Linked DNA regions of Homo sapiens: region 1 is linked to region 2. The links come from fine-mapping of genetic effects on gene expression. A gene starts in region 2. The other region holds a variant in brackets. All regions are shown on one strand. Distances are from middle to middle.

Region 1 (11,524 bases), 45 kb after region 2:
AAGTGAGACTGTCTCAAATAAATAAATAAATAAATAAATAAATAAATAAATAAATAAATAAAACCTGAGGTTGAGCACGATGGCTCACACCTATAGTCCCAGCACTTTGGGAGGCTGAGGTGGGTGGATCATTTGAGGCCAGGAGTTGAAGACCAGTCTGGCCAACATGGCAAAACCCCATCTCTACTAAAAATACATACACACACACACACACACACAAATTAGCCGGGCATGGTGGCACACGCCTGTAGTCCCAGCTTCTTGGGAAGCTGAGGCATGAGAATTGCCTGAACCTGGAAGGCGGAGGCTACAGTGAGCTGAGATTGCGCCACTGCACTCCAGCCTGGGTGACAGAGCGAGACTCTGTTTCAGGAAAAAAAGAACAGAAATACCTGAGACTGGGTAATTTATAAATAAAAGAGGTTTAAGTGGCTCACAGTTCTGCAGGCTGTGTAAGCATGGCACCAGTGTCTGCTCGGCTTCTGGGGAGCCCTCAGGGAGCTTTACTCATGGTGAAAGGCTAAGTGGGAGCAGAGATGTCACATGGCGAAGCAGGAGCAAGAGAGCAGGGAGGTGCCACACACCTTCAAACAACCAGATTTTGTGAAAACTCACTCATTACTGCAAGGACAGCACCAAGCCATGAGGGATCCACCCGCAGGACCCAAACACCTTCTATTAGGGCCAACCTTCAACATTGGGGATTACATTTCAATGTGAGATTGGAGGGACAAGTATCCCAACTATATCAGGCAGAATATATGCATTGATATATATTGAAATTATAACATTCTCTATAATCAAGTGACTGTAAATTATGTCGAATCTGACCCTGGGGAATGTGTTATCTAAAGAATTTGACTAAGAATCAGGAACTCTGTGTCCATGTCCTGGATGTATTTCTGTATGTTCCTATAACTCTGGACAAATCATTAAACCTCTCTGGGCAGCGTTTTCCTCATCCATGAAATGAATGTGTTCAATTTGATCTCAAAGATCTTTCCAAAATATTAAATGCCATTAATCATGGAATAGACCAAATTATTGTATCACAGGAACTTGAATCCAGCCAGAGAAAAATTCCCTGGACAATTGGATAAACAAATGTGATTGCTACCTTATGGATACAACGGACTTTTACATTTCTTTTTAGCCTTTTTAGTCAGTTGAGGGTAACTCAAGCAGAGTATGTCCAATCATTAGCTTCCTTTGATATTTACATTACAGGTAAAAACGGCCAAAAATATATTTTAAGGTCTCTCCCCAAATGTTTTTATTTTTAAACTATCAATGTTGTTTAAAATAATCATGTACTTGTTGAGTTCCTGAGGTTTGGAACAAATTACACATAAAATTTAGAATACTTTATTTCTGAAAAGCATATACATATATGTTATGTTTATTTTTCCTTGTTGATTAGAAAGGTGATGGAATATGTGACAATGCAAAATGAATTGATAATTTTTCTGTATTTTGAGTGAAAGTTGTCTGTAATATGTCAAGCAAGAATGTTATAATTCTACAGTAATGTGTGACTTCATGACAGAGCTACATTCTGAGAAATTTGTCATTAGGTGATTTCATCATTGTGTGAACATCATGAAGTGTACTTACACAAACCTAGGTGGTAGAGCCTACTGCACACCTGGGCTAGATGGCAAAGTCTGTCGCTTCTGGGCTACAGACCTGTACAGCATGGTACTGTATTGAATACTGTAGGCAACTGTAACACAATGGTATCTGTGTAATCTAAACATAGAACAGATAATACATTGTGCTACAATGTAACAATGGCTGTGGCATCACTAGGTGATAGGAATTTTTCAGTTCCATTATAATCTTATAGGATCTCTGTCATATGTGGTCAATTGTTGATCGAAACATGACTGTATGTCGTATTTTCAGAAAATGGAATAGGTAATCATCACTTGTGTGAATTTTAATCAAATGACTTAGGAAAGAAACTGGATGTTTCAAAAGCTGTTGCATTTATTACAAATGTCACAAATACAGCTCTTGCCTTTTGAGAATGTTGGAGAGATGTCTTTAAAAAATATGTTTGTGTGTAAAAATGTGTCTGTATGCAATAGCTAGAAAAATGCCTGTGTCTTAAGTCATTACTCATGTTCTAATTTTTGTTCTTTGTACTATTTATCTGTATGCTTGTTCTTCAGTATTTCAGACTCAAAATAAATTTATTTTTTTATGTTAATTTTCTGTGACTTTTTGAAAAATTCTGATGCTTAGGTACACATGGGGAGTTTAAAGGGATTATAAAATTTCAGAATGGGCAAAGAGGGAATGAGGTAGTGCATGGAACATAAAATGAGGAAACAAAGTCTACCAGGGTCAGGGCTAAAATAGATACTAAAATATTTTATTCCTTTAAAAGTAACTTTAGAGAGTGATGTTAGCAAGATGGCAGAATAGGAGCTTTATATCATCATTCTTCCACAGAAGCATTGATTTTTACCAGTACTTTCAGATGGTAGTTCTTTTGTAGGAATCCAGAAGTCCTACGTGGAAGTTCCAGCACACCATTGGAGCAGAAATATCTGAGAATAAATGCATTAAAGAAAAGGAAGAAGAAGATTTTCACTTTATCTGCATCACTCTTTGAAGTTGGCACAGCTTAGTGGCAAGAGAGACTCCCCTCAGTCCACAATTTCTCCCATGGGAGAAGGTGATAGCATAGTGAGAGTGCTCAGCCCCTAGCTGTGTGGGATGCTGCCTAAGAACCCTACCTCTTTCTTGCTCCAATTAAAATATTGAGGTGACTGTCATAGCTAAGCGTTGGGAAAGGCTGGGAGCAGGGAAGAAAGGCTCTGAAACCTACTCAGCACTCCACAGACTCCATCAGGAAGCCTCACCAGCCACTGGGATACCTTGCATATGGACCTCCCACATGACCCATGGCCACCCCAAATTCTCTGTGCACCTCACCCCCATCTCCCTGAGGCTGGCTTCCCAAGCATGCCACATTGGATGGCAACTGCAAGCATCAAATATAGAGACAGATGGCTTGATTGTGGAATTGAAGCAAGGTACACAAACTTGAGTACTTCAGGACACCACCCCAGGGGAAACAAACAGGAAGCTGTCAGCACCTGGCCTGGCTTTGTGGGATTGAGATAAGGCATATAACTTTTAAGAATCCCCTGCTGCAAGTGGGAACAGGGGTTGTGGAGCAGGTGAATCCACAGGAAAGGTAGGAGAGAGCCTCAGAATTCCTAGCCAGGCAGATTGATGAAGGCATTTCTCTCCTGAAGCTAGTCAATAAAGACTGGAGGAAGTGATTTTCTTCAAATGCAAGGATGGAAATGGAAGACTTCAAGAAAACAAAAAATGGAAACATGATATCACCTAAGGAGCACAATAATATTACAGTAACAAATCCAAAGAAATTGAGATATATGAATTGCTTGACAATAAATTTAAATTGTTTTAAGAAAATTCAGTGAGCTACAAGAGAACAGATATACAACTCTATGAAATCAGAAAAACAATGCATGAACAAAATGGAAGTTCAGCAAAGAGAAATCATAAAAAAATTCTGCTGCTGAAGAATACAATCAGAAAGGAAAAAAGCAGTAGTCAACAGCAGATTTGATCAAGCAGAAGAAAGAATCTGAATTCCAAGACAGGTCATTTGAAAATATGCAGCCAGAGGAGAGAAAAAGAATGAAAAGATTAAAGAGAGCTTATGAGATTTATGGAACAACATTAAGAGCTAACAGTTGCTTTATGGAAATAATAAAGGAGAAGAGAAAGAAGGAGCAGAAAGCTTATTTAATAAAGCATGGCTGAAAGCTTCTCAAATGTGGGAGAGACACAGACATTAAGGTATATGTCGCTCAAAGTTCTGCAATCTGGTTCAACCCAAAGAAGACTTTGCCAAGACACATTACACTGAAACAGTCAAAAGTAAAAGAATTAAACTTTTTTCCTTTTTTTTTTTTCTCTTTTTTGAGACAGAGTCTCACTCTTGTCTCCCAGGCTGGGGTGCAGTGGCATGATCTTAGCTCACTGTAACCACCTCCTCCTAGGCCCAAGCGATTTTCATGCCTCAGCCTCCCAAGTAGCTGGGATTACAGGCATGCACCACCATGGCTGGCTATTTTTTTTTTTTTTTTGTATTTTTAGTAGAGATAAGGTTTCACTACGTTGGCCAGGCTGGTCTCAAACTCCTGGCCTCAAGTGATCCACCTGCCTTGGCCTCTCAAAGTGCTGGTATTACAGGTATGAGCCACTGTGCCCAGCCAAAAATCAAAGAGAATTTTTAAAGCAGCACAAGGAAAAAGAAGCTTATCACATACAAGGGAGACCCCATAGGCTATCAGATTTCTCAGCAGAAACCTTGCAGGCCAAGAAGAGTAGGATGATATATTCAAAATGCTGAAATTTAAAAAAGAAAAATAAACTGCTAACCAAGAATACTTTACCTGATAAATCTGTCCTTCAGAAAAGGAAAGATTAACTTTCCCAGACAAATAAAAACTGAGGGAGTTAAATCACCACCAGACCTACCTTGCGAGAAATGCTAAGTGGAGTTCTTCAAGCTGAAACAAAAGTATGCTAATTTTAATGCTAATATGAAAACATAAAAAGGTATAAAACTCACTGGTAAAGATACGTATATAGTCAAAATCAGAATATTCTAATACTGCAGTGGTTATGTGTAAATCATTTTAACTCGTGTATAGGCTAAAATAAAAATATTAAAAATAACTAGCTTTGGTAATTCATTAATTGATACACAATATAAAAGGATGAATATTGTGACAGCAAAAGCATAAAATGGCGTATAAAAGTGTAGAGTTTTTGTGTGTGAACAAAGTTAAGTTGCTATCAGCTTAAAATAGACAATAAGATGTTTTATGTAAGCCTGTTTTAACCACAAAGCAGAAACCCGTAGTAGACACACACAGATAAAGAGAAAGGGATCTAAGTATACTACTAAGGAAAATCATCTAATCACAAAAGACAGCAAGAGAGGAAGAAAAGGACAAAGGATCTTTAAAACCGCCAGAAAACAACAAAATGCCTGTAAGTTCTTACCTGTCAATAATTACTTTAAATGTAAATGGGTTAAATTATCCAATCATAGACATAGATTGGCTAAATGGATTTAAAAACCAAACTGTATGCTGCTTACCAGAGTCACTTTAGCTTTAAAGATATACATAGGCCGTAAAGGGATGGAAAGAGAGAATCCATACAAATGGAAACAGAAATAGAGCAGGGTAGCTTTATTTATTTATTTATTTTTGAGACAGAGTCTCACTCCACCCAGGCTGGAGTGTAGTGGCATGATCTCAGCTCACTGCAACCTCCACCTCCTGGGTTCTTGTGATTCTCATGCTTCATCCTCCCAAGTAGTGGGGATTACAGGTGTGCACCACCACACCCATCTAATTTTTGTATTTTTAGGAAATGGAGTTTCACTGTGTTGGCCAGGCTGGTCCTGAATGCCTGACCTCAGGTGATCTGCCTGCCTTGGCCTCCCAAATGTTGGGATTACAGTTGTGAGCCACTGCACCTGGCCAGGGTAGCTATATTTAAATCAGACAAAATGGACTTTAAGTAAAAACTTTGGCCAGGCATGGTGGCTCACGCCTGTAATCCCAGCACTTTGGGAGGCCAAGGCAGGTGGGTTACCTGAGGTCAGGAGTTCGAGACCAGCCTGACCAATATGGTGAAACCCCATCTCTACTAAAAATACAAAAATTAGCTGGGCGTGGTGGCAGACGCCTGTAATCCCAGTTACTCAGGAGGCTGAGGCAGGAGAATCGCTTGAGCCTGGGAAACAGAGGTTGCAGTGAGCTGAGATCGTGCAACTGCACTCCAGCCTGGCCAACAGAGTGAGACTCTTGTCAAAAAACAAACAAAAAAAACACCTAAAAAACTTTAACAAGGGACAAAGAAGACTATTATATAATGATAATGGAGTCAATTTTTTTTTTTTTTTTTTTTGAGACAGAGTCTCGCTCTGTCGCCAGGCTGGAGTGCAGTGGTGTGATCTCGGCTCACTGCAACCTCCGCCTCCCAGGTTCAAGCAATTCCCCCTGCCTCAGCCTCCCAAGTAGCCAGTACTATAGGCCTGCACCACCATGGCCAGCTAATTTTTTGTATTTTAGTAGAGACG[G/A]GGTTTCACCACATTGGCCAGGATGGTCTCGATCTCCTGACCTCATGATCCGCCCACCTTGGCCTCCCAAAGTGCTGGGATTACAGACATGAGCCACTGTGCCTGGCCTTAATGGGGTCAATTATTTAAGAGGATCCAACAAGTTGTGTGTGCATGTGTGTGTGTGTGCCAACAGTGGACTACCTAAAATTATGCAAAGCAAATATTAACAGATCTGAAAGGAGAAATAGCAGTAGAATTAATAGGGGATTTCAGTACCCCACTTGCAACAATTGATAGAACATCCAGCCAAAATCAATAAGGAAACATTGGATTTGAATTACACCTTAGACCACATGGACTTAATGGACATATATTGAATATTCCATCCAATAGCAACAGAGTACACATTTTCCTCAAGTACACATGGAACATTCTCCAGGATGGGTCATATGTTAGGCCCAAAAGAATGTCTTTAAAATACATTTAAATAAGAAATACAATTGAAATAATCATATATTCCTTAAGACATAATATCATATTAAGCAACTTCTCTGATGCTTACAATGATAGGAAATTACACAATTACATATTATTTCACAATGATATGAAATTACCCACCAATAGAAAGAAAACTGGAAAATTCAAAAATATGTAGAAATTAAACAACAGATTCTGAACAACTAGTGAGTCGAAGAAATCAAACAGGAAATCAAAAAATATTTTGGGACAAATGAAAATAGAAATACTTTCTATTTCCATTACCATATCAAAACTGATGGAATGCAGCAAAAACAGTTCAAGGAGGGAAATTATAACAATAAATGGCCACATGAAGAAATATCTTAAATAAATCACCTAACTTTACACCTGAAGGAACTAGACAAAGAAGAACAAATTAAGCCCAAAATTAGTAGAAGGAAGTAAATGACAAAGATGAGAACAGAAATAAATGAAATATAGACTAGAAAAATAATAGAAAAGATCAGTGAAACTAGGAGTTGTATTTTTTGAAAAGAAAAACAAAATTGATGAACCTTAGAGTAAGAAAAAGAGAAGTCTCAAATGAAATTGTAAATGAAAGAGGAGATATTACAACTGATACCACAGAAATACAAAGAATCATGAGACTATTATGAACAATTGTACTTCAACAAACTGGATAACCTAGAAATTGATAAATTTCTATAAACATACAACCTACCAAGACTGAGTCATGAAGAGATAGAAAATCTGAGTATACCAATAACAAGTAAGTAGATTGTATCAGTAATCAAAAATTGTCCGTAGAAGAAAAACCAAAGTCCCAGTGGCTTCACTGGTGAATTCTACCACACATTCAAAGAAAATAATACTAGTCCTTCTTAAAGTGTTCCATAAAATTTCAGAGGACGAACACTTCCAAACTAATTGTCAGCATTACCCTGATACCAAAACCAGTCAAGGACATTATAGAAAATAAAATTACAGGCCAGTATCCCTGATCCTCCACAAAATACTAGCAAACCAAATTTAACAACACATTAAAAGGATCATACACTATGATCAAATGGGATTTATCCCAGGGATATAAGGATGGTTCAACATATACAATTCAATAAATGTGATATACTATAAGGGTAAAAATTATATAGTCACCTCAATAGATGCAGAAAAAGTATTTGACAAAATTCAACACCCTTTCATGATAAAACCTCAAAAAAAAAAAAAGACATAGAAGGAGCTTAACCTCAACACAATAAAGATCATTTATGAAAAGCCCACAGCTAACATTATACTCAATGGTGAAAAAGCTGAAATCTCTTCCTCTAAGATCCAGAACAAGGCAAGGAGGTCCACTCTTACCACTTCTATTTAGTAGGACTGGAAGTTCTAACATGAGTAATTAGATAAGAAAAAGAAATAAAAGGCATCCAGACCTGAAAGGAAGAATTAAAATTGTGTGCAGATAACATGATCTTATGTATAAAAATCTCTAGAGATTCTATGAAAAAACATTTAAAAATAAATTCAGGAAAGTTGCTGGATACAAAATCAACATATGAAAACAGTTGCATTTCTATATACTAATGAACTATCTGAAAAACTAAGCAAAAAATTTCATTTACAATAAGATCAAAAAGAATAAAGTACTCAGAAATAAGTTTAATCAAGGAGGTGAAAAATCTGTACAATGAAAACTATAATGCATTGATGCAAGAAATTGAAGACAAATTAATGGGAAGATATCCCAAGTACATGGATCAGAAGAATCAATATTGTCAAAATGTCCAACTACCCAAAGCAACCTTAAGATTAAACACAATTTCTCTCAAAATTCCAATCGCATTTTTCATAAAAATAGAACAATCTTAAAATTTGTGTGGAACCTCAAGAGAACTTGAATAGCTAAAGCAAACTTGAGAAAGATCAAAGTTGTATCACACTTCCTGATTTCAAATTATATTACAAAGTTACTGTAATCAAAACGGCATGATACTCTCATAAAAACAAACTAGGCCAATGGAACAGAAAGCCCAGAAATAAACTCATACATACACTGTCAATTAATCTGTGACAAGAATACACAATGTGGAAGGGATAGTCTTCAATAGATACTGTTGGGAAACCTGGATAACCACATGCAAAAAAAAAAAAAAAATGAAATTGGATTCTTATCTTACATCATACACAAACATCAACTCAAATGGATTAAAGACAGGGCAGGTGTGGTGGCTCATGCCTGTAATCCCAGCACTTTGGGAGGCCGTGGTGGAAGGATCACTTGAGTTAGGAGTTTGAGGACAGCTTGGGCAACATAGTAAGACCTCGCCTCTACCAAAAAAAATTTAAAAATTAGCCAGGTATGGTGGCACACGCCTGTGGTCTCAGCTACTCAGGAAAGCTGAGTTGGAAGAATCTCATGAGCCCAGGAGGTTGAAGCTGCAGTAAGCCGAGATTGCACCACTGCACTCCAGCCTGAGTGACAGAATGAGACCTTATCTCAATAACAACAACAACAACAACAAAGACTTAAATATAAGACCTGAAATCATAAAATGTAAGGAGGAAACATAGGCATTGATGAGCAATGATTTTTTTTTAATATGACACCAAAAACAGAGACAGCAAAAGCAAACATAAACAAGTGGGACTAAACTTTTAGCGTAGAACAGCAATTTTGCCCGCCACCACTTTTGCACCATCATTGCAAATGTCAACATAGTGAAAAAGGTATATAACTTCTTTGTATTATTATGAAAAGAGTTTGGACATTATGGATTCCCTGAAAAGGGTCTTGCTTCTAGAAAGGAGAAACTGGCTATCACTACATTGATCAATGATTCACAATGCCAGAATATGGAGAGAATAAAGAGTAAGGGAGGATCAAGGATCAAAGGCCTCTAATTAAAGGAGGTAGGTGGAACATAAAGAGTTAGTGGAGACAAAGAAGGAGCCTAAGGGAAAGACAGGCAGAAGATTTAGGGTGGTTTTATTAATGAGACCAAAGAGAAGAGAATTGGTAGCTGCAAAGCAAGATACTACCTCTGTGTAAACGAAGAGTTATAAAAAGCTGCTACTACCATCTGTTGTCATGCCATTTAAATTATAATTAGTATGATATTTCAGGATAAAGTTTCCAGCATTATTTAGTTTTACAAACAGCTAAATATTTGAGGCAAAAGCCATGAAACTGTTTAAAATATAAAATAATAACATGGCATTTTATCTGTTACCGGCTACCCTATAAGAAATAGGAACTTTAAAATCTAAGACCTTTCTCAGATCCCATTCAGAATCACTAAAATTTACATTTAGATTTTCAGTGGGAAAAACTACTTCCATCCAGAAAAAAAGATACTCTTTATTTTCAATAGCAGGCGAAGAAATCTAGGTAAGTAACACATTTCTGAAGTCACCTCTTTCCTGTAAGCCACCTGTTAGTGTCAGCTTCTTGTCCTCACCACACTGCCCCTCACTTTCTGCAGGAAGAGTTGGTCAAACTAATAGGTGACATCCCGCCCTGAAGTAATTTCAGGGCCCTTGACAGGATCCCATGCCTGGAAGATGCCTTTATGACCTTTCACCGGAGATACGATATTTTTGGGTCCCTAAAGAGAGAGAAGGTTTCAAAGCACACCAGACTACCAAGAGGGAATATCTCATCTTAAGTCTGATGGCTGTCCTGCAAGCAGGTTTGAATAGGAGGGAGGAGGAGATGGGGCTTGGAGGCCCTATAGCCTTGAGAAAGGAGAAAAGGACGGCACAGGAGAGAAATTTAGAAAGGACTCATTAAAATAAGACATATGAGCCTCATTTTCCATTTCGACAAGTGACGTATTAAGCCTTTGTTTTATCTTGTTATATGTACCCATTTGCACTTTTCCCTTTATCTTGATTATTTTAACCCGTGGGCGAAATGGTAACTGTAAAGAGAACAACCTGGCGGAAACCAGTGGAAACTTGATTTCTGGTTGGAGCCCATAGGTTTCGGTTGACAAATGCTGCTTGAGCATACCTCTCATTCCCATAATGAGGAAAACATTTGATTCTTCCAGGGATGAACTGGCCCCAAACTCCCTGAGATAAAATGATAAATTAGATTTTTATAAAGTTTCATAATGCATAAAAATTAAAATGAGGCTGAAATAGGACTGACAGTGCTTTCTTTTTCAGTGAAAAGGCTGAATCCTTCAAAACATACTTTGACCCCAAACCAAGACGGACAAGATCTGGGTCATTCCAGCTAGGGCAGAATTTGTCCATGGCCAGAGCTTTCTATTGTGTCATCAGGAGCTCAGAATTTAAAAAGATGTCCCTGGAGAGGCTATACACAGCAATAAACTCATTCTTTGCAACGTTATTCAATACTTGGTACTCTTATTCATAAGGTAGATTCCTTGAATGGTTTTCTTCTGTTATTTATGTGCATTACCTCACTGCCTCAACTGTACCATGAGCCCTTTGAAAGTATTCATCGGCCGGGTGCTGTGGCTCACACCTGTAATCCCAGCACTTTGCGAGGCTGAGGTGGGCGGATCACCTGAGGTAGGTTTCATGCGCGTCCGTGTGAAGAGACCACCAAACAGGCTTTGTATGAGCAACAAGGTGGTTTATTTCACCTGCGTGCAGGCGGGCTGAGTCCGAAAAGAGAGTCAGCGAAAGGAGATAAGGGTGGGGCCATTTTATAGGATTTGGGTAGATAAAGGAAAATTACAGTCAAAGGGGGGTTGTTCTCTGGCGGGCAGAGTGGGGGTCACAAGGTGCTCAGTAGGGGAGCTTTTGAGCCAAGATGAGCCAGGAGAAGGAATTTCACAAGACAATGTCATCAGTTAAGGCAGGAACAGGCCATTTTCACTTCTTTTGTGGTGGAATGTCATCAGTTAAGGCAGGAACCGGCCATCTGGATGTGTACGTGCA
Region 2 (10,257 bases):
TCAGTAAGTGAGTTACAAATTAGTGAATCAAGAGGAAACATGTGAAGCAGTTGCACAGTTTTTTCAGAGTAAATCTGGAAATGAAGATATTAGTTGCTACAGGTGGGAGGGGTGAGCAGAGGCAGATTTACCATGAAGTTAATATGAGGGTCTCTGAAGGCTTGTATCTCTCTCTCTCTCTTTTTTTTTTTTGACAAGGCCTCACTCTGTTGCCTAGGCTGGAGTGGCGTGATCTCAGCCCATTGCAGCCTTGACCTCCTGGGCTCAAGCGATCTTCCCACCTCAGCCTCTCAGGTAGCTGGGACTACAGGCATGCACCAGGCCCAGCTAAATACTGTATTTTTTTGGTAGAGAAGGGGTTTCGCCATGTTACCCAGGCTGGTCTTGAACCCAGGCTCGCCATTGCACTCCAGACTGGGCAACAAGAGCGAGACTCCATCTCAAAAAATAAATAAAAAAATAAATAAAAAGATCTAGAAAAGTGACAGAATAATTTGTTCCCATCTCACCAGTTTGGTTTCGCTGTACTGATGACCTCAACTGGCATCATGGACCGAGAAGAAACAAGACAAAAACACAGGAGAAAAAATCCTGGGACTCTTTTTTTTTTTTTTTTTTCAGGAATAAATATATACAAATAAAATGTCTCAATGGAGGGAAGAATACATGTGGGAGGATTCTGATTTCCAACCTTCTCCTCTACTCCTCCATTTCCAACTTGATCTTTTCACAAAATAGAACCATATAGCCTCTGCTGATCAGGTGGACAGAGCCTGATGCTAGTAGGAGTAAACTGAAGGCAAGGTTGCCCAAATCTACCCACCTCCCCATGAAACATCATGGATTGCACATCCAATAGCATTGTTCTGGTTTGCATCTTAACCTCTGAGGCTCGTAAACTGTGGCAAACCTTTGTTCAGGGACAGCTACATCACTCCTATTAGCATCTTGGACCTTGGCTCCTGGATGCTGTCCAGATCTCATATTGCTGAAGTGTTACTTATTCAAATCTCTCTGACTTGGCATTCCACACCCATAAAGTAGCTCAATCTCATCTTGACTCCCAGCCAAACGATGCTCCCAGTAGTATCTTTTTTGACAGAGATTAAGGTTCATTTTACGTTATACATCCAAACATTTGATATAAATAATGACTCATGTTTAAACTGGTTAATAAATATCTACCACTGAAGCCAGAGAAAGAAGACAAGATTAAGAAATTAGAATGGTGGCCGGGCACGGTGGCTCATGCCTGTAACCCCAGCACTTTGGGAGGCTGAGGTAGGTGGATCACCTGAGGTCAGGAGTTCGAGACCAGCCTGACCGACATGGAGAAACCCTGTCTCTACTAAAAATACAAAAATTACCCGGGTGTGGGCACCTGTAATCTCAGTTACTTGGGAGGCTGAGGCAGGAGAATCACTTGAACCCGGGAGGCAGAAGTTGCAGTCAGCTGAGATTTCATCATTGCACTCCAGCCTGGACTCCAAGGGCAAAGCTCTGTGTCAAAAAAAGAAAAAGGAAAAGAGAAAGAAATAGATTTCACTCCCTCCTTCCCTTCCTTCTGGAAGTTTGCAAGACTTTTTTTGTTTTTGTTTTTGTTTTTGTTTTTTTCTGAGACGGAGTCTCGCTCTATCGCCCAGGCTGGAGTGCAGTGGCGCGATCTCGGCTCACTGCAAGCTCCACCTCCTGGGTTTACGCTATTCTCCTGCCTCAGCCTCTCGAGTAGCTGGGACTACAGGCGCCCACCACCATGCCCGGCTAATATTTTGTATTTTTAGTAGAGATGGGCTTCACCGTGTTAGCCAGGATGGTCTTGATCTCCTGACCTCGTGATCCACCCGCCTCGGCCTCCTAAAGTGCTGGGATTACAGGCGTAAGCCACTGCACCTGGCCAAGATTTTTTTTTTTTAAGAAACAGATTTCACGTGGTGGTGGGCGCCTTAATCCCAGCTACTTGAGAGGCTGAGGAGGGAGAATCGCTTGAACCCCGGAAACAGAGGTTGCAGTGAGCCGAGATCGCATCACTGCACTCCAGCCTGGGTGACAAGAGCGAAACTCCGTCTCAAAAAAAAAAAAAAAATAATAATAATAATTTAAAAAAAGATTTCCTTCCTTCTCTCCTCCCTCCTTTTTTCCTTCCTTCCTTTCTTTTTCTCTCTTTCTTTCTTTCTCTCTCTCTTCTTTCTTTGTCTCTTTCCTTTCTTTTCTTTCTAATTTGGCACACAAACACTTTATTTAAATGCATATCTCAATTCCTGTGCGGCTGGCAAATAAAATAAAGGAGCAGATCATGGCACAGCATTCTCATGGACCAAGTGGTCGAACCCAACATCCAAGACCCAGTGAGCAGCCAAGCTCAGTGCAACCTCCAGGCCTCTCGCTCTGACTCCAACAGGGTGAGCACATAGCCCTTGCGCATGGGGTCTTTTACACTGTGGATGATGGAGTGGCTTGTGTCTTCCATAAATTCCCGCATGCACTGTCCCTGAGAGCTGGTTCTGCCCAGGACCTTGGTGACCCTGGCTAGCTAGATAGGCTGCACATGGCTGGTGTCTGTGATGGCGATGCAGCAGCAGTTGGGCAGAGAGAAGAAATAGATTTCTTTACAAAGCAAGTAATTATTTAAAATATTCACGGTAATTCAGTATTCATTAGCTGTACTCAGTAAATATTTATTGAACAGCTACTATGTGCTAGGTACTCGCACAAAGTACACTGGTTACAAATTCTTGAAAAATAGTAGCGGTAGCAAAAAGCAACAAAACTTTCAGCCCTGCCCTTATGGAACTCACATTCTAGTGGGCAGGGAGAAAATAACCAGAAAAAGGCCCAGCACAATGGCTCATGCCTGTAATCCTAGCACTTTGGGAGGCCGAAGTGAGCTGATCAGTTGAGACCAGTCTGAGCAATGTGGCAAAACCCCATCTCTACAAAAAATACAAAAAGTACTCAGGCTTGGTGGTCAGCCGAGAGAGAGAGAGAGAAGGAAAGAAAGAGAGAGAGAAAGAAAGAAAAGAAAGAAAGAGGCCAGGCTCGGTGGCTCAGGCCTGTAATCCCAGCACTTTGCGAGGCTGAGGCGGGCGGATCACGAGGTCAGGAGTTCAAGACCAGCCTGGCCAATATGGTGAAACCCTGTCTCCACTAAAGAAAAATACAAAAATTAGCCAGGCATGATGGCGCGGGCCTGTAGTTCCAGTTACTCGGGAGGCTGAGGCAGAAGAATCGCTTGAACCTGGGAGGTGGAGGTTGCAGTGAGCCGAGATCGCGCCACTGCACTCCAGCCTGGGTGACAGAGCAAGACTGTCAAAAAAAAAAAGAAAGAAAGAAAATAACCAGAAAAAAAAAGTAAAAATATAGGACATTTTAGGTGAAGGTAAGCACTAGGAAAGAAAGAAAAAAAAAAGCAGGGAAGGGATGTTGGCCGGGGCGGGCGGAGGGGGGGATTTATACAGTTTGGCCAAGGAAGACATTATAATAATGCACTTATTCCTTAGTTTAGAACATGTAGCATTTCACCTGTACCGAGAGATGCCTGATATATTTCATACATGACCAAAATAATAATGTAAGAGGCAATAAAAAAGTGCAGGGTTTTAGGGTTCTAGATATCAGCACATTTTAAGATTAAATGCATGGTAAGAACTTTTGTACTATATACACCTAGTTTGAACTTAAATTTAATAACAAACTCTTTGGAGTCTCTCTCTCTCTCTTTTTTTTTTTTTCCCAAACATAGCTTCCCAAGGAGCAGAAGGGCTGAATTTTCTCTAGTTCCAGGAAGACCGCAAGGCTACTGTGCTCTGGATGTCTCGTTTTTATTTTTTTATTTTTTTATTCTCCAGATCTCAAGACGGTGTCTGGCACATACCATTCAATACAAGTTTGGTACCTGGAACCCACTGAATATGCATGTCCAGTAACTATTAACTACATGTGTTGGTGCAAGGGAGAAGGTCGAGCAACCGGATCTGCTCCATCATAGCCCGTCTCAGTCGCTTCATTCAAGTCAGCGGGGTGAGGTTGAGGGGATTCCAACTTCACAAGGGCAGATTTCTCATGGACTCTCTTTCTCTGGTTGTACTGGAACACTTTCTGGCGTTATTCCTCTGCTGGGACAGCATGAACTTATGAAACGTGGTCCTGTCTGCCCTAAAGCCAGGGTCTCACCGACAAGGACAGCGATGCTGGGGCGAGAAATAAAGTTCGTCCTGGGCCTGCGTACGGTACAGCGCCCTTGGGAAGCCCTTGTGGAGTTAAGGGTGATGCCCACTTCTTTGTCTCCCTCATTCTGTTTCGGTGGCTCTCTCGTTCCCAGTTCCAAGCTGCCCACTTGTTAGAGGAGCCACTGCTTACCAGGCATCTGGTTTAATAAAACATGGCTAGAGCGACTGCATGTTAAAGTGAGTAACTAGGCACTCACAAGGCACCTATAAGGTTAATGCTAAAGGTCTGAAAATAGCCGCATTCTAAGCTGACCAACAATTATAATTACACAATATTTATGGCCATACAGGACATCTCCCACCAAGTCTGCGGAATTGTCCAGATGTCCTGAGTTTTTTTTTTTTTTTTAGACAAGGTCTCACTTTGTCGCCCAGGCTAGGCTGGAGGGCAGTGTGGTGCGATCTCAGCTCACTGCAACCTCCGCCTCCCAGGTTCAAGTAGTTCTCCTGCCTCAGCCTCCTGAGTAGCTGGGACTACAGGCATGCACCACCACGCCTGGCTACTGGCTTTTTTTTTTTTTTTTTTTTTTTTAAATAGATGGCATCTCAGTATGTTGCCCAGGCTGGTCTCGAACTCCTGGGCTCAAGGGAGACTCCTGTCCGGCCTCCCACAGTGCTGGGATTACAGACGTGGCCACCGAGCCCGGCCCAGCCCTCTACTCAGAGATAACGTCAATGCGCAGGCTTAGGTTGAAGGATTAATGGTCATTAGTGCACCAACAGCCCCTACCTTTAGTGGGCACATCAGCACATTCCACGATTAATCACAGCTCCTCACAGCTGCCTCTAAGTAGTGACACTACCGAAGGACGGGAGTTCCTCCTCCTGCAGTCTGAGGACTTGCACTCTCTAACGGAGTAGATTCCAATAAACTTGCTTCCTTCACTGCGCTCTGTGACTCGCCTCCAATTCTTCCCTGAAGTAGACCCAAGAACCCTCTCTTGGGGTCTGGATCGAGACCCCTTTTTCCAGCAACACAACCCGCGGGGCCGCCTCCCGCCCACCCTCAGGTGCAGGAGACCCCGGGCCATGCATCCTTCCGGGCAGGAAAATGTCAGCCAGCGCTCGCCGGCCGCTTTCCTCCCCCGCCTCCCGAAGTTCTCGCCCGGTAGCTCCCCGACTGGCTCTCGCGCCGGACAAAGGCGCACGCTGATTGGCCGGAGGGCCGTAGTCATGCAGGACGCGCGACTCTAGGGGCGGGACCAGACAAGGGGTGACTGCCGCGCGGCGCGGGGGAGGAGACCTTCATCTGTTCACGCGGTAGCGCGGATTGCGGTTCGCGGCGCGCGCCACCGGGGAAGGAGCGGTGGGCCGAGGGGTTGGAGGTGGGGCCCCAGGAGGACCTCGGGCTGTGGGCCGGGAGAGCGGAGTCGGGGAGTGGGGCGGGGGAGCGAGGTGGCGCCGGGGAGCCTGGGATATGGCGCGGCCAGACGATGAGGAGGGGGCGGCGGTGGCGCCCGGACACCCGCTCGCGAAAGGATACCTCCCGTTGCCGAGGGGCGCGCCCGTTGGGAAGGAGAGCGTGGAGCTGCAGAACGGGCCCAAAGCGGGCACCTTCCCGGTGAATGGGGCCCCCCGGGACAGCCTCGCTGCCGCCTCGGGAGTTCTGGGCGGGCCTCAGACTCCACTGGCCCCAGAAGAGGAGACCCAGGCCCGGCTGCTGCCTGCGGGCGCGGGAGCTGAGACCCCGGGGGCCGAGAGCAGCCCGCTGCCCCTTACGGCGCTCTCCCCGCGGCGCTTCGTGGTGCTCCTGATCTTCAGCCTGTACTCGCTGGTCAACGCCTTTCAGTGGATCCAGTACAGCATCATTAGCAACGTCTTCGAGGGCTTCTACGGTGTCACCTTGCTGCACATCGACTGGCTGTCCATGGTGTACATGCTGGCCTACGTGCCCCTCATCTTCCCGGCCACCTGGCTGCTGGACACCAGAGGCCTGCGGCTCACCGCCCTGCTGGGCTCCGGCCTCAACTGCCTGGGTGCCTGGATCAAGTGCGGCAGTGTGCAGCAGCATCTCTTCTGGGTCACCATGTTGGGCCAGTGCTTGTGCTCGGTGGCCCAGGTGTTCATCCTGGGCTTGCCCTCCCGCATCGCCTCAGTGTGGTTTGGGCCCAAAGAGGTGTCCACAGCTTGTGCCACCGCCGTGCTGGGCAATCAGGTAAGTACTGGAGTGGTAGGTGAAAGTCAGATCCTTAAAAGACCGGAAAAAGTCATAGGCCGTGAGAACTATGGCCTGTATGGATGAACTGCCCCAGGAGGTATTTGTCTATAAAAGAGGAGATGAAGCCGTTGAATAGGAGGCCGTCTTGGATTGAAGTGGGCTATAAATTTCTTTGTAAGGACAAAATTTTCCAAACGACCTTGTCATCTTGCTTTGAAAATTACCTATAAAATAATTAACTGGGCCGGGCGCGGTGGCACACACCTGTAATCCCAGCACTTTGGGAGGCCGAGGTGGGTGGATCACTTCAAGTCAGGAGTTCCAGACCAGCCTGGGCAACATGGGGAAACCCCGTCTCTGTTAAAAATACAGAAATTAGCCAGGCCTGCTTGCGGGTATCTGTAGTCCCAGCAACTCAGGAGGCTGAGGCAGGAGAATCTCTTGAACCCGGGAGGTGGAGGTTGCAGTGAGCGGAGATTGCACCTTTGCACTCCAGCTTGGGTGACAGAGTGAGACTCTGTCTCAAATAATAATAATAAACTGTAACCATAATAATAATAATAATAATTAACTGTATTGGCTTGTGTATGCCTAACATGGAAAATTTGTCAATGCAGTAACGAACAAGACTTGGGGTATTATTTTTGTCACCAGTGTATTTGTGAAAGGAAGGTATTGGGTTCTGGGAAGATTGTTTCCATTTTGAGAGGTCATTGTGAACAGCTCCCTTTTAATTTCATATATTAGCAGTCAGCACAGTTCCTGGCACATAAGGGACACATAAATGACTGCTAACCAAAAGTTCTGGGCTGGGCGTGGTGGCTCACGCCTGTAATCTCAGCACTTTGGGAGGCTGAGGCAGGCGGATCACTTGAGGCCAGGAGTCTGAGACCAGCCTGGCCAACATGGCAAAACCAAATACACAAAAATTAGTGGGGCATGGTGTGGTGCATGCCTGTAATTCCAGCTACTCAGGTGGCCAAGGCATGAGAATCTACATGCTTATTGCTTTATAGTCATTTCCCTTATCTAAAAGTACAGAAGATGGAGTAGGTTGAACTATAGTTGTTTGTCCAAAATAATTTATGACTGATACTTGAGTTGGTTGCATCTGCAGGTTTGGACAGAAGCTATTATAAAGTTTTTTGTGTGTGTGGTTTTTTTTTTTTTTTTTTGTAGAAATGGGGTTTCTCCATGTTGCTCATGCTTGTCTCGAACTGCTGAGCTCAAGCTCTCTGCCCACCTCTGCCTCCCGAAGTGCTGGGATTACAGGTGTGAACCACCACGCCCGGCCATGATTACATTTTCTTTGTCACACATCTCTCAGTTTAAATTCATTTTTAAATATTCAGTAGCATTTCTTGATCCCATTTAGAGTTGCCCAGTCACTCTCTTTACATTATTTTACTTTAATTCTCCTTATAGCACTCATCCCTGTCTCATATGTTATTGTTTACATGTTCATATGTTACTTACCTATTACTTTTCTCTTATCCCCACCATTAGATTGTAAGTTTCATGAAAATAGGAATGTGGTCTGAATGTACACAGCTGTATCACCAGCATTTATTACTCTCCATAAAACCATGTTGAATAAATAAAGGAGCTTCAGACTCATACAGATACTGGCCAGCTGGATAGTCTACTTGGATATCTCATGGGAACACACCACTCAAAATTGCTTTCTCCTTGCTCATTTCCCTTTATCTCTAATGCCACTGTCTTGGTTTGGGCCACCCACAGCTCTCACCTAGAGCTTGCTAACTGTCCTCCCTATCTGTAGCCCTTGCTGTCTTCCCTCTGTTCTCGCATTCATCCAGCGTGGTCTTTTACAATGTGCAAATCTGTTCCGGGCACATCCTTACCCCCTGCAGTGGCTTCCATTGTCCTTAGGATAAAATTCAAACACTCTAGTGTGACATATGGGACCCTCCAGATCTGCCTCCTGCCAGCCCTTCCACTTTATCTGTATGCACAACCCCTGTCCCCACAGACATATGCTTTCTCTGCTCTGTGCAGAACTATGCCTACTTATAGTTTCTCACAAGGTCGTGCCCTTTCCCTCCTGGCCTTGTATGTAATGTCCTGTTGGCTTGGAATATTTCTTCACTTGACTAACTCCAATTTCTTATTCAGATCTTTGCTCCTCCAGGAACTTTTTCTGAACCCCATTTCTTTTCATTCTTTTTGATAGCTGAATAATATTTCTATATAAGGTGCTCCCCCAAAGTACTCTCTTAGCTACCATGATCATATGTCCCAGTTTGCTTGGGATAGTCCAGGTGGTACACCTGTTGTCTGGTATGATTACTAATGAAGTCCCTTTCATTCTGAAGAGTATTCTAGATGGATAGTAAATTACGTGGTCTCCCCAGTCTTGGCACTGTTTACGTCTCAATCACAGTACTGTATTACCACCCTCTCTTGTAATTACCAGTTATATTCTTTCTATCTAGCTTTTTGTTTTATTTTTATTTATTTATTTATTTATTTTGAGATGGAGTCTTGCTCTGTCCCCCAGGCTGGAGTGCAGTGGCGCGATCTTGGCTCACTGCAAGCTCTGCCTCCCGGGTTCATGCCATTCTCCTGCCTCAGCCTCCCGTGTAGCTGGGACTACAGGCACCCGCCTCCACACCCGGCTAATTTTTTGTATTTTTTAGTAGAGACTGGGTTTCACCATGTTAGCCAGGATGGTCTCGATCTCCTGACCTCGTGATCCCCCCACCTCGGCCTCCCAAAGTGCTGGGATTACAGGTGTGAGCCACCGCGCCTGGCCTCTATCTAGCTTTTTGTAAGGGAGCAAATGAAATATTTGATAAGTGTGACTATCTCTGCCTCAGACTCCTTTCTTGGGCCCTTCCTCCTCACGCCCTTCCTCCTAAAAATCTTCCTCCTAAAAACCTTCCTCCATTGAACCTCCTAATAGTTTGATTTTATTTCTTGTGATTATGATATTTAGCCATATTTTTTGTTGAGGTAAAATTCACATAAATAAAACTAACCATTTTAATGTGTACAATTCAGTGGCGTTTAGTACATTTACAGTGTTGTGCAACTGTTACTTCTGTCTAGTTTCAAAACATTTTTATCCACCCGCAAAGAAGGCCCAATACCTACTAAACAGTCACTTCCCCACCATTGCCCCCTCCCCTAGCCTGTGGCAAGTACTAGTTTCCCTTCTCTTTCTGTGGATTGACCTGTTCTGGATATTTCATATAAATGGAATCATACAGTAGGTGACCTTTTGTGTCTGGCTTCTTTCACTTAGCTTATTTGCAAAGTTCATCCATGTTGTAGCACTGTATCAGTACTTCATTCCTTTTTAATAGCTGAATAATATTTCATTGTATGAATATACCACATTTTGTTTATCCATTTATCTGTTGATAAATGTTTGGGTTATTTTCACCTTTTGGTTATTGTGGTAATGTGAATAGGGCTGCTGTGAACATTCATATGTAATTATTTGTTTGAATTTCTGTTTTCAGTTTTGGGGACATATACCTAGGAGTAGAATTGCTAGGTCATATGGTAATTCTATGTTAAACTTATTAAGGAACTGCCAAACTTGTCTGCAGTGGCTGCACCATTTTATAGTCCCACCAGCCGTATTCAAGGGTTCCAATTTTTCCACATTCTTGCCAACACTTTTATATTGCTATTATTGTTATTATAGTAGCCATGCTACCTGGTGTGGAGTGGTATCTTATGGTTTTGATTCGGGCATGTTTTCAAATGCTTATTGACCATTTGTATATCTTCTTTGGAGAAATGTCTATTCAAGTCTTTTGCCCATTTTAAAATTGGGATATTGCTTTTTTGTTGTTGAGCTGTAATAGTTCTTTATATATTCTGGAAGCTATACCCTGATCA

Evidence for each region.
Region 1: its variant is fine-mapped to the expression of FLVCR1 in aorta (GTEx, PIP 0.93).

Annotation. Positions count from the first base shown.
Region 1 is chr1:212,897,152-212,908,675 of GRCh38, forward strand. FLVCR1 (FLVCR choline and heme transporter 1) reads left to right here. Exons shown (of 10, transcript NM_014053.4): 10 at 1-2,212. Among named protein-coding and RNA genes, the nearest start is that of FLVCR1, 45 kb to the left of the region's middle. RefSeq lists an enhancer at 11,028-11,524. The variant G/A (reference allele first, on the strand shown) is at 6,146.
Region 2 is chr1:212,852,810-212,863,066 of GRCh38, forward strand. FLVCR1 (FLVCR choline and heme transporter 1) reads left to right here and starts at 5,466. Exons shown (of 10, transcript NM_014053.4): 1 at 5,466-6,381. The coding sequence starts at 5,644. It overlaps FLVCR1-DT (FLVCR1 divergent transcript), which reads right to left and starts at 5,329. Exons shown (of 2, transcript NR_027286.1): 1 at 4,957-5,329; 2 at 3,795-4,109. It also overlaps the pseudogene RPS28P2. RefSeq lists silencers at 5,567-5,626, 5,707-5,916 and an enhancer at 10,134-10,257.